Linked DNA regions of Homo sapiens. The protein of the gene in region 2 interacts with the protein of the main gene of each other region in a biochemical or structural test. Each region holds a gene or a part of one and is shown on either strand. Other genes may lie near its edges.

Evidence for each region. The genes of interacting proteins can lie anywhere in the genome.
Region 1: the proteins of NOX1 (region 2) and ARHGEF7 form a complex in vitro, tested with the Homo sapiens proteins (one study listed by BioGRID).

The regions. Positions count from the first base shown.
Region 1 is NC_000013.11:111,300,306-111,306,259, forward strand, and holds the end of ARHGEF7 (rho guanine nucleotide exchange factor 7), read left to right. Parts: intron 1-442; coding exon 443-542; intron 543-1,172; coding exon 1,173-1,227; intron 1,228-2,685; coding exon 2,686-2,808; 3' UTR 2,809-5,427; downstream 5,428-5,954. UniProt on the Homo sapiens protein: Acts as a RAC1 guanine nucleotide exchange factor (GEF) and can induce membrane ruffling. Functions in cell migration, attachment and cell spreading. Promotes targeting of RAC1 to focal adhesions. May function as a positive regulator of apoptosis.
Region 2 is NC_000023.11:100,850,329-100,857,359, forward strand, and holds part of NOX1 (NADPH oxidase 1), read right to left. Parts: intron 6,114-7,031; exon of another isoform or gene 4,245-6,113; intron 998-4,244; coding exon 905-997; intron 59-904; coding exon 1-58. UniProt on the Homo sapiens protein: NADPH oxidase that catalyzes the generation of superoxide from molecular oxygen utilizing NADPH as an electron donor.

The sequences.
Region 1 (5,954 bases), on a different chromosome or scaffold from region 2:
TGCTGTAGAGTAAAATGTTTTTATTGCCAGATCTTTGATGTATAAACACTCACTGTATATGTTCTGATTGGTCTCATATGTCTTTGCTGAAACTCTTGGAATAATGGCTCAAAATGGGATGAATATCCAGAGCAGTACAGTCACAACCTTTAACTTCCTCCCTGTTGAAAATGCTGGGGTTTCAACAATCCGTAATTCCGATTTGAAAAGGGCTACAGTTTCCTTCCCTCTCTGGCTTTGGTCATGAGGAGGCCTGGGCTCGGTAGACAGAGGTGAAGAGAACTGGTAAAAGATGCCCTCCTCTAGCTTGCCTGGATGAACGTTTTTAAATGCATAATTGCTAGAACTTAATATTTAAGTGACATGGTATAGTCAAGTTGTTTTTCTTCATTCTGCCATGGTATTCGCCTGAGGTTTATTTATTATTTTTTCATGATCCTAGGTTCACGCAAAGAATCTGCTCCACAAGTTTTGCTTCCAGAAGAAGAGAAAATTATAGTGGAAGAAACTAAAAGTAATGGTCAGACAGTGATAGAAGAAAAGTAAGATGTCTTCCGGTATTCTAAAGCAGATGTTTGACCTCTGCGGTGGGGTAGTAGAGTCCAGACAACTCCCTGAGGGCGGGGGTATGGCTTCAGAAGCTTCACTTTTTTTTTTTTTGAGACGGAGTGTCACTCTTGTCACCCAGGCTGGAGTGCAATGGTGCGATCTCAGCTCACTGCAACCTCCACCTTCCGGGTTCAAGCGGTTCTCCTGCCTCAGCCTCCCGAGTAGCTGGGATTACAGGCCTGTGCCACCACGCCTGGCTAATTTTTGTATTTTTAGTAGAAACGAGTTTTCACCCTGTTGGCCAGGCTGGTCTCAAACTCCTGACCTCAGGTGATCTGCCCGCCTCGGCCTCCCAAAATGCTGGGATTACAGGTGTGAGCCACTGTGCCTGGCCAGAGCTTCACTTTTAAAATGTCTTCATAGGCTGAAGTTGCCCTTGACTAGGCTTGAACCTGCCATGCACAGAGGTTGGCAGTTTTTAGTTGTGAATGTAGACAGTACATGGGTAAGGCAGAGCAGCTCCGTGTCCTCCTCTCAGCATCGTAGTGTCTCCTGGTAAGTTTTCGTGTGTCCTCTCCATGCCTCACCTTGTTCATGTGTGTGTGTTCTGTTTCCTGTTTCAGGAGTCTTGTGGATACCGTATATGCATTAAAGGATGAAGTTCAAGAATTAAGACAGGTACGTCATAATCCATCTTTAAATCTTTTTTTTCTTTTCAAATGGGAGAAAAGAAGAAAATTACATTAAAAATAAGCTGGCTGGGTACGGTGGCTCACACCTATAATCCCAGCACTTTAGAAGGCCGAGGTGGACAGATCACCTGAGGTCAGGAGTTCAAGACCAACCTCACCAACATGGCAAAAACCCATCTCTACTGAAAATACGAAAATTAGCTGGGCATAGCGGCAGGTGCCTGTAACCCAGCTACTTGGGAGGCTGAGGCAGGAGAATTGCTTGAACCTAGGAGGCGGAGGTTGCTGTGAGCCGAGATTGTGCCACTGCACTCCAGTCTGAGCCACAGAGCAAGACTCCGTCTCAAATAAAAATAAAAAGCTGATTGTCCATAAGCAAAAAACTAAAAGGAGGTCATGTCTTTGAGAAGTCCAGCAGATAAAATAATTGGTTGTCTCTAAAGTGACTTGTTTAAACTCTTTTTTTTTTCTTAACAATACTGATTTTGATGTCATAAAACATCGCAAATTCTGTTGGAAGAATAATTTAAAATATCGAAAGTTCTGTCTGGTGACAAATCCTGCGAGGCGCCCCTGAGATTAGCCTCTGCCACTGCATGGTCCTTGGCTCCCGAAGCCAGGTTAGCGAGCCAGAAGTGGCGACTAACCAAGGGTGTTCTGGGTATTGCACGGAATGTGAGTATGAGCAGCTTTGGTCCTCTGCCCAGCTAGGCGAGGGAAGGTTGGGGTGTTCATTGCACGGAATGTGAGTACGAGCGGCTTTGGTCCTCTGCCCAGCTAGGTGAGGGAAGGTTGGGGTGTTCTTTTGGCCGAGGAACAGCCTGAGAAGAGTTGTGGTCTGGGATAGAGAGCTGAGAGCAGGTTGCTGTGTGGAACTGGACATGTGCTGTCATTCTAAGCAGTGTCCGCAGGTCTTCCAGGTACACCTTTGCCTGGCTGGCAGGCTTCCATGTTCACGCTTTGCCCCTACCGGCAGCAGGCATCTGTTTGTGCATGCCTCCTACGTCCGAGACATGCCTGGGTTCAGCTGCACAGAGCAGGTGCTCGCCCACTTGCTCCTGCACCTGTCAGTGGCTGTTACTTCCAGTCCTTTCTGTAACTCTGGAAGGTGGTTATAAATGGACAAAAAGGCTGGATAGGAGCTGTCTCGTCCGCAGTTTCCAGCTATTTTCTTACGGTATGTTCTATAGAGATTCATTCATGGACTTAATAAGAGCCATTAGGACCATTTCCATCCCGGGAACAGCAGCACAGTCAGGAGCACCGCTGCCACCCTGTCCAGGTGTTTGACCTTCGTGGATCCCCACGACCTCAGAGCCCATAGGCAGCTCACGTGGGATTTCATGAATCGAGGCCTTAGCTCCTCAAGGATACACATTTGGGGAAAGGAAGCCCTACGCGATGCCAAAGATAGTGAACACCCTGTGGTCTGCTTAATTTACAGGACAACAAAAAGATGAAGAAATCTCTAGAGGAAGAACAGAGAGCCCGCAAAGACCTGGAGAAGCTGGTGAGGAAAGTCCTGAAGAACATGAATGATCCTGCCTGGGATGAGACCAATCTATAAGGGATGTCCTCAGTTCTTTCTGTTGAAGACCAGTTCTGAGGTGAAGCTGGGCACCCCTGACCCAAGTCGGGGTGCACTCAGGACCACAGGGCAGGGCTGGGTGGGGCGCCACCTTGCTCTCTGTATATAGAAAAGCTGGAGCTTATTCTGCGAATGGAGACGATCAAACCATGACTGATGAATCCAGACAGGAGGGATTGACTCTGAGGACCTGAGCTACATCAATCCACTCTGTGAACATCTCAGTTACCTCATTCTGCAATAAGTTCAGTGACTGACTAAAAGTCTTGTTTTTCCAGACTTTGAATTGAATATATAAATATTATATATACATGTTTCTTGTAAATATCCCATTTTGAATGCATACCTGTGGTGGTTCTGTCCGGGCTAATCCCCATGCTAGAATGTCCTTTCCAGCTACGTGAATAAGAAGTCCCATGCCCGCATCCACCGGAAGCAGAAGCCTGGTGGATGCCTGGTTCGTTCCGCAGCACCAGGGCCTCCACCGTGCTGTGGCAGCACCCCCCATGTCGGTATTTCTAAATAACCTTATTTATACCTGCAGAGATACACTTCAGTCCCATTCAGAAGTCTTCTCTTAAAGCAGCATTACAGTCCCAGACCTGCGGGTTTCTGAGGGCAACTTGCTGGCTGACAGACTCAGTCTTGACCTCAAGGAAGGCCCATACGGCACTGCCGCATCCACCTAGAGGTGTTTGCTCTTGTCCGCTGTCTGAGTACTGTGATTCTCAGATGAGTTTGCTGCGTTTTGGGAGGACACAGACGGTTCTGTATAGGCTAGTTCAGTAACAACAAAATACACTGTTTTGTCTTCCCTCAAAGAGAGATCTTACTAGAACCTGTAAATAGAATGTATTATTTATTATAAGTCACTGCAGCTGATGAAAACAGATGGAGGCCATGCTGCAGGCTGATACTGATGGGTGGAGTTTTGTCATCAGGCCAGCCTCATCCCGAGGTCTCCTCCACCATTGGCCGTAGCCAGCAGGCTTCAGTGCTCACCGAAAGTAAAATCCCCTCCTTCAGCAAGAATAAAGCAATATACACCTTAGGTTCCACTAAGTAACATAGGCATAAGCAGGGAACGTTTCCCCCACTGTGTTCCAGTGCAGAGGAGACGAAGCCTGTCCTCACCGCGGCTCGCTGGGCCCAGGCTGGCTCTGGAAAGCCTGTGCGGTCCTGGGCAGGAAGCCCGGCCCGTGGAGCAGGTTTTCGTTCTGCTTCAGCAATAAATAAGGGTGACCACAGGGACTTTGCTTTTGGTTTCCTTTCCTGTGAAAAGGTTGGTTTTAAAGTGAGATACACTTTTCCGTAGAACAAGTGTTCTATCTTTAAAAACCCAAATTGCAGCACCGTGGATTACTGGTCTCAGAACAACTCATTGCGCATCAGATTTGACTCTCTGATTTTCTGTCTATTGGCCAAATTGCCCTTTAACTGCACCTGAATCCTTTGTGTACTGATGCCTTTGAGCTGGGCACCTTGGGAGAGTGTTGTGTTGCTGTTTACGGTTCTTCCTTGCCCTTGCTAATTACAGTCTCTGGTGCCCAGCAAGCCCCTTTGGCTTCCTTCCGTGACTGGTCACGTTGTCTGCCTGGGCTCAGCGTGGACCTGCCCCATGCTGCAGAACCTGGCCTCACCTGGACTTTTCACTAGAATTGCCAGCTTCCTCAACTTAGCAGATCATTCACTCATGCGGGCACAAGCAAAGATCAACACTTTCTTTTTTGGTAAGCTTGAGTTTTACAAGTTATTTTTTGGTGATGCGTAAGACATTGCAGTGGGAAACCATTCAACTTGAGTTTATTGGAGTTTGCTGTTGTAGCAGGTTTTAACTCAGGAACAACTCTTGTCTGATCTCTCCGCCCCTCTGCCGGGAGGCGACATTAACTGTCCTCTCGGAGCCGGTAGCGTTGCTGTCCGAGTCCCCAGGACGGATCTCCTGCAGACCTGCCTTAATGCTCAGATCGAAGTATTTCACAAGAATACTTGTGTTTTTAACAGCCCTTCCCCTGGACGGTGCGGCCATGAGGGCCTCATGTTACGGCATTGCCTTTTCTTTCTGTGGATCCAGTATCTTCCTCGGCTTTTTAGGGAGCAGGAAAAATGCGTCTGAGAGCAACTCTTTTTAAAAACCTGCCCTGTTGTATATAACTGTGTCTGTTTCACCGTGTGACCTCCCAAGGGGGTGGGAACTTGATATAAACGTTTAAAGGGGCCACGATTTGCCCGAGGGTTACTCCTTTGCTCTCACCTTGTATGGATGAGGAGATGAAGCCATTTCTTATCCTGTAGATGTGAAGCACTTTCAGTTTTCAGCGATGTTGGAATGTAGCATCAGAAGCTCGTTCCTTCACACTCAGTGGCGTCTGTGCTTGTCCACATGCGCTGGGCGTCTGGGACCTTGAATGCCTGCCCTGGTTGTGTGGACTCCTTAATGCCAATCATTTCTTCACTTCTCTGGGACACCCAGGGCGCCTGTTGACAAGTGTGGAGAAACTCCTAATTTAAATGTCACAGACAATGTCCTAGTGTTGACTACTACAATGTTGATGCTACACTGTTGTAATTATTAAACTGATTATTTTTCTTATGTCACAGAATGTGTCGCTTCGTCTTCTTTGATGTGTTTTCTGTGTGCTTGTTAGCTTTACAGTTTCTTTGGGCTGTTTTAGATTTGAAAATTCTGTCTGTCTTTGATACTGAAGATAACATGTTTCCTTTAAAGTCTAGAGTTTGAGAAAATTTGAAGATTTTTTTTTAAAAGACAAGGAAAGAACACTGGAAGTCTTAGGAACAAAAGCTGAAGTAACAGGTCACGCTGGTAGGCACAGCCCCCAGGTCCTCACCCATGCCTGGAGGAATGACCTGCATTCTGGAAGGCGCTCAGGACACCGTTTTGTGGGATCAAGTAAGCGAAACTTTCTTGAAGATATCTGTGGGGTCCCTTTTAGGAGCTGTCATAAGACAAAAGGAAATTGCTCGTGTGTGTCCCTGTGTGGCGGTGGTGCAAACGAGGGTGTCTTCCGGAAGGGTGGCCGGGAGGACCAAGCGGGGTCTCCTGTCCATGGTCCGTGTACCTGGCTCAGGTGTGTCTACAGCTCCGCTGCATGTCATTTCAGCCA
Region 2 (7,031 bases):
TGCTGAAGCCACGCTTGTTCATCTGCAATTCCAAAACTTTGGATGGGTGCATAACAACCTGTGAATGAAGCACATAGACCAAAGAAAGCAAACTCTAATGACGACAGGGACAGGCAGATAAAGCAAATGAGTGAAGCTGGAGGGCTGGTGACAGTGGTGAACTACAAACACAAGTCCTCTCTAAAGAGGGCAGCAGCTACTTAGCTCCAGACAGTGGTTGCGATATGGAACCATGACAGTGTTATCAGGTTTCCTGATTCTTCAAGAGAAGCAAGAAATAGCTTTTAAAAAATCAAACGAAAGCTTCCATCCAGATTTTTAAATGTTGGCAACCAATTCAACTTTATAAACAAACATTGTGTGCACCAAACAAAATATAGCTGTGAACTAGCTCTGGCCCAGGCTGCCTGTTTGCAACCTCTGATATAGACTCATCCTGATGATTTCGGCCAAGCCCCTCTTTCCCAGTTCTGTCCAGTGCTGGAGGAACTGAGGTATGCCAAACCCAAGTTCTTCTTCTTTTTTTTTTGAGACAGAGCCTCTCTCTGTCACCCAGGCTGGAGTGCAGTGGCGCTATTTCAACTCACTGCAACCTCTGCCTCCCGGGTTCAAGCGATTCTCCCGCCTCAGCCTCCCAAGTAGCTGGAATTACAGGTGGGCACCACCACGCTCAGCTAATTTTTTTTTTTTTATTAGAGATGGGGTTTCGCCATGTTGGCCGGGCTGGTCTCGAACTCCTGACCTCAACAGATCTGCCCTCCTTGGCCTCCCAAAGTGCTGGGACTACCACCCACTGTGCCCAGTTTCCAAGTTCCTCTTTCAGGGTGACAACATAAAAATTTAGTTCTGTAGTCCGGTAGAAGATAACTCTTATCACAGCAAGAGGAAAGTGCATATTCTTTACCTTGGTAATCACAACCTTCTGCTGGGAGCGGTAAAACCGGAGGATCCTTTCACAGATATAAAGAATGACCGGTGCAAGGATCCACTTCCAAGACTGCACAGAGACAGGGTTAAGAATGAGATTACACACTAATTTCTTGTTTAGGACTTATTTGTGTAGCAGTTCATCCTTCATTCTTTACTGAGTTCTCCAATGTGTATCATTTTTAAGCTACTAATTTCACCAAATCTGGAAGATGGAAATAGAAAAAATAAAGGACAATGGTTTCGTTTGCTAATCTGTTATTCATAAAACAGACCATTTCCTGAAAATTTACAAGTCTGACCAAGAAGCAGGAGAAAAGCACAGAAATGGAACACATGGTAAATATTCTTATTCTTAAATTACATATAAAATTTAATTTTAAGGCCTGGCACAGTGGCTCATCCTAGCACTTTAGGAGGCCGAGGCGGGCAGACTGCCTGATCTCAGGAGTTGGAGACCTAGCCTGGGCAACATAGCGAAACCCTGTCTCTACTAAAAATACAAAAAATTAGCTGCGCGTGGTGGTGCATGCTTGTAATTCCAGCCACATGGGATGCTGAGGCATAAGAATCGCTTGAACCCAGGAGGCAGCAGAGGTTGCAGTGAGCTGAGATCACACCACTGCACTCCAGCCTGGGCAACAGAGCAAGACACTGTCTCCAAAAAAATAAAATAAGATTTAATTTTAAGAATCTAAGACTGTCTTCGAGGACAGCTTGTCCAATCTAAAAAACCAACAGAGAAAGTAGATGTGAAATAGAGGCAGATGATTAAAAACAAAACAAACACAAAAAAGGGAAAGTATGTGACTGATGCTACTGGTACATAAAACTCAGTACTTATCCATCACCTCCTTTCTCAAGTGCTTAAACATTTAACATAGTAATATCTTTTTTACCTTGTCTACATTTTTTTTAAAGGCAGCTTTTTGGCCAGGCGCAGTGGCTCACGCCTGTAATCCCAGCACCTTGGGAAGCCAAGGCGGGTGGATCACTTGAGATCAGGAGTTCAAGACCAGCCTGGCCAACATGGTGAAACCCCATCTCTGCTAAAAATACAAAAATTAGCCGAGTGTGGTGGTGGGTGCCTGTAATCCCAGACACTCGGGAGACTGAGGAAGGAGAATCACTCGAACCCAGGAGGTCGCAGTGAGCCCAGGTCGCGCCACTGCATTCCAGCCTGGGTGACAGAGTGAGACTCCGTCTCAAAATAAATAAAATAAATAAATAAATAAAGCAGCTTTTCTATCCCTGAGATCTTTGCAAAGCAGCAGTTTGCTTCTACCTGCACAGGAACTACTAAAAATATACTTCCTAGCAATACTAAATTATGTCCTTTCTTGCACAGTTGCTCAAGTGTGATACATTGGGACTGTGTGAAGTGAGGTTTCTTAAGCTGGTGCAAGCAAATAACTTCCTTGAGTATCTCTAGGGAAGGAAGAGGCAGAGATGGGACAAATCAAACAGAGTGAACATTATGCAATTCAGTGCTATTTCTTATTTGAAGAAAATTCCCCAGCTCAATTTGAGGAAAAACATATTTAAGAAATGGATAATAACAATGTGAAAAAAATATTGGCCTCAGAAATAGTCAGAGTAATAAATATTAAAACAAGATACCATTTTAGTCTCTCAAATTGAAAAACAATTTTAATTAATAATGCCCAGCATTAACTGGGATTCAGGGAAATGGGAGTGTTCACGTGGGCATGCAAATTGAACATGCATTTCACAGGGGTGAAAATGCAAATTGGCAACATCTTCCCAGAGAGCAGTTGAGCAGTATGTCTCAATAGCCTCAAAAGCATTCCTTCTCTTTTACCCTGGAACTTCACTTCTGGGAAATGAAGATAAATAATTAAGGTGTGAAAAAGTATTATGCACGAGTAAAGTAATGGCCACAATGTTTACTTTAAGAAATGATTAAAATGGTATATATACCATACACATATTTTCCTTCTCTTTCTCTTTCTTTCTTTTTCTTTCTTTCCTTCCTTCCTTCCTTCCTTTCTTTCTTTCTTTCTTTCTTTCTTTCTTTCTTTCTTTCTTTCTTTCTTTCTTTCTTTCTCTCTCTTTCTCTTTCTTTCTTTCTTTCTTTCTTTCTTTCTTTCTTTTCTTCCTTCCTTCCTTCCTTGCTTTCTTCCTTGCGTCCTTCCTTTCTTTCTTTCTTTTTTTTTTTTGACAGAGTCTCACTCCGTGCAGTCACACAGTCTCGGCTCACTGCAACCCCCGCCTCCCGGGTTCAAGCAACTCTCCTGCTTCAGCCTCCCAAGTAGCTAAAACTACAGGCATGCACCACCACACCTGGCGAATTTTTGCATTTTCAGTAGAGATGGGGATTCACCATGCTGGCCAGGCTGGTCTGGAACTGCTGGCCTCGAATGATCCACCTGCCTCAGCCTCCCAATTAGCTAAAACTACAGGCATGCACCACCACACCTGGCGAATTTTTGCATTTTCAGTAGAGATGGAGATTCACCATGCTGGCCAGGCTGGTCTGGAACTGCTGGCCTCGAATGATCCACCTGCCTCAGCCTCCCAAAGTGCTGGGATTACAGGCATGAGCCACCACTCCTGGCCAACTATTTTAAAACAAATGTTTCAAGGCCGGGTGCGGTGGCTCACGCCTGTAATCCCAACACTTTGGGAAGCCAAGGCAGGTGGATCACCTGAGGTCAGGAGTTCGAGACCAGTCTGGTCAACGTGGCAAAACCCCGTCTCTACTAAATATACAAAAATTAGCAGGGCGTGGTGGTGCGCGCCTGTAGTCCCAGCTACTTGGGAAGCTGAGGCAGGAGAATCACTTGAACCCAGGAGGCAGAGGTTGCAGTGAGACAAGATCACACCACTGCACTCTAGCCTGAGTAACAGAGGGAGACTGTCTCAAAACAAAAAAAAATGTTTCAAAGGAAAGCATCCATTATATCAATCAAGGAAAAACATTATTTCCTCTAGGTGGTAGAACTCTATGAAATTTTTTATTTACTTCTAGTATTTTTTGTATTTTCCAAACTTTCTACAATAAATGTATATTATTTTTCTAATTTTTAAATGGGGTGAATATGGAGAGAGTATTTTTTAAATGTTTATGGAAGAAACAAAGCAATACATTCAGGTGGCAAAACTGGTATTCTCTCTCTTAGAGTATTACACGACCAACCAAAGCAACCCCTAAGTTTTAAGGATACCAAATAGACCAACTATAACTTAACTCAGGTAATAGATGAGAAAAAGACAGAAGCTGATGTGCAAGATAAGACAAGGTATTAACCATCTTAGCTAGTAAGCTTTCCTAATAATCTTTAAATAGCTCCCTATCTTTTTTTTCAAGAGAATTAAATTGTTTATTGATTACACATGATAATGGATGATACACAAGCTTCATTCCCATCTATAATTTTATCTGGTACCATTATTCAACGTAGATATATTGCATAGGATGTGCCAACAATTATTTTTATAACCAATAATTCCATGATTTTGCTTGGGTAGTCCCTTTTAATGGTGAACTTCAGGTCACAACAGTAACTATCAATTCAATTACACCAAGGTTTCTGAAGACAATGGCTTCTCCACCCAAGCAGGTTGTATATAAATTCCAAATAGAACCTGGCATCACCCTGAAGGAATGCTAACTTCACACTGTTGGGGAAATTTACCAAGATGGCTTCAGTGTAGACTAACTTTACACAGCACATTAAAAAAAAAAGACATTTATTCAGTGTCATGATCAGACTATCACATATAGCAATTTTTTGCATGGGTGCAAAAAAAATCTACATTAAAACCCTTTGTTGGAATGCTTTACACTTTCCATAGAACAGAAACTAAAATAACCTGTTATACAATTAGTCACAAATACAGTCCTTGACTTTTTTGCCCATAAACATGAGTATTTGTATAAAACATGTCTTCTTTGTGGCAGCTAGGCCCTGCCACCACTGTGTTTGGCTGAGTTCATGAATCTGTTGTAACCTGTAGCTTCTCTGTCACTTCTCTGGCTCTCCTCTCCTGCTAAGCTTTGATTCCCAATTAACATCTTCTGCCACTGCCATAGCTACTGCTGCTACTGGAACCGCCATAGCCACTGTGGTTTGGTGGTTTGGCAAAGTATTGGCCTCCATCACCCTAGGGGCCAGAGCGTCTGCCCCAAAGTTTCCTCCCTTCATGGGTCCAAAATTTGAATACTGATTGTTGTAATTGCCAAAATCATTGTAGCTTCCACCACCTCCAAAATTGCTTCCACTACCACTGCCAAAGCCGCCTCTGCCTCCCTTGTTACAGCTGTCATAGCTGCCACTCCTGCCATAGCCACTGTCCTGATTTCCACAACCCTGTCCACCACTTCCATAGCCTCTGCTTCCTCCAGAGTAACCAGGGCCGCCTCCTGGATAACCACCATCATTACCAAATCCATTATAGCCATCCCCACTGCCACCATATCCACCACCATCATGGCTGCCACCAAAGCCACCATGACCACTGAAGTTTCCTCCACAACCAAAGTTTTCATTCCCACCAAAACCACCTCCACGACCACTTCGACCTCTTTGGCTGGATGAAGCACTAGCCATCTCTTGCTTTGACAGGGCTTTCCTAACTTCACAGTTGTGGCCATTCACAGTATGGTATTTCGGAATGACAATCTTATCCACGGAGTCATGGTCGTCAAAAGTTACAAAGGCAAAGCCCCTTTTCTTGCCACTGCCTCAGTCATGATTTCAATCACTTCCATTTTTCCAAACTGTTCAAAGTAATCTCTTAGGTGATGTTCTTCCGTGTCTTCTTTAATGCCACCAACAAATATCTTTTTCACAGTTAAGTGGGCACCTGGTCTTTGAGAATCTTCTCTTGAGACAGTTCTCTTTGGTTCCACAACTTTTCCATCCACCTTGTGTGGCCTTGCGTTCGTGGCTGCATCCACCTCCTCCACAGTGGCGTATGTGACAAACCCACAGCCCCTGGAGCGCTTGGTGTTTGGATCTCTCATTACCACACAGTCTGTGAGCATTCCCCATCACTCATAATGGCTCCTCAGGCTCTCGTCAGTTGTTTCAAAGCTCAAATCTCCAATGAAGAGCTTCCTCAGCTGTTTGAGCTCTTTAGGAGACTCTGACTTAGACAAGATGGAAGGGAGAAGAGAGACTTTAACGATGCTTCTTCAGTGGCGTACACGGGCGGAAAGGCAATAGCTCCCTATCTTTAAGGTCCTCTTGTCTACTAGTCCGCTAATACAGATCCCTGGTTATGATCTTATAATTTCCTCTGACTTTAGAAATGAAATGTGCTATTAACATATCCCAGGTATGTCCTTCCAAAATTACTTTTTTTTTTTGAGATGGGGTCTTTCTCTGTCAACCAGGCTGGAGTGCGGTGGTGCCATCACAGCTCACTGCAGCCTCAATCTCCTGGGCTCAAGTGATCCTCCCATCTCAGCCTCCCATGTAGCTGGAACCAGAGTCGTGCACCACCATGCCCGGCTAATTTTTTAATATTCTGTAGAGACAAGGTCTTCCTATGTTGCTCAGATTGGTCTCGAACTCTTGAGCTCAAGCAATCCTCCTGCCTCAGCCTCCCAAAGTGCTGGGATTACAGGCATGAGCCACTGTGCCCCACCCAAAATTACTTTTTTTTTTAACTTCTATTTTAGGTTCAGAGGTACATGTGCAGTTTGCAGGTAAACTACATGTCACAGGGGTTTGGTGTACAGATTATTTCATCACCTAGGTAATAAGCCTACTACCCATTAGATAGTTTTTTGATCCTCTCTCTCCACCCTTTCTCCATTCTCAAGTAGGCCCCAGTGTGTTATTCCCTTCTTTGTGTGCATATGTACTCAATGTTTAGCTATCACTTATAAATGAGAACATGTGATATTTGGTTTTCTGTTTCTACATTAGTTTGCTTAGGATAATGGCCTCCAGCTCCATCCATCTTGCTGCAAAGGACATGATCTTGTTATTTTTTATGGCTGCGTAGTATTCCATGGTATATATGTACCACATTTTCTTTATCCAGTCTACCATTGATGGGCATTTAGGTGGATTCCATGTCTGCAGTTTTGAATAGTGCTGCAATGAACACACAAGTGCATGTGTCTTTGT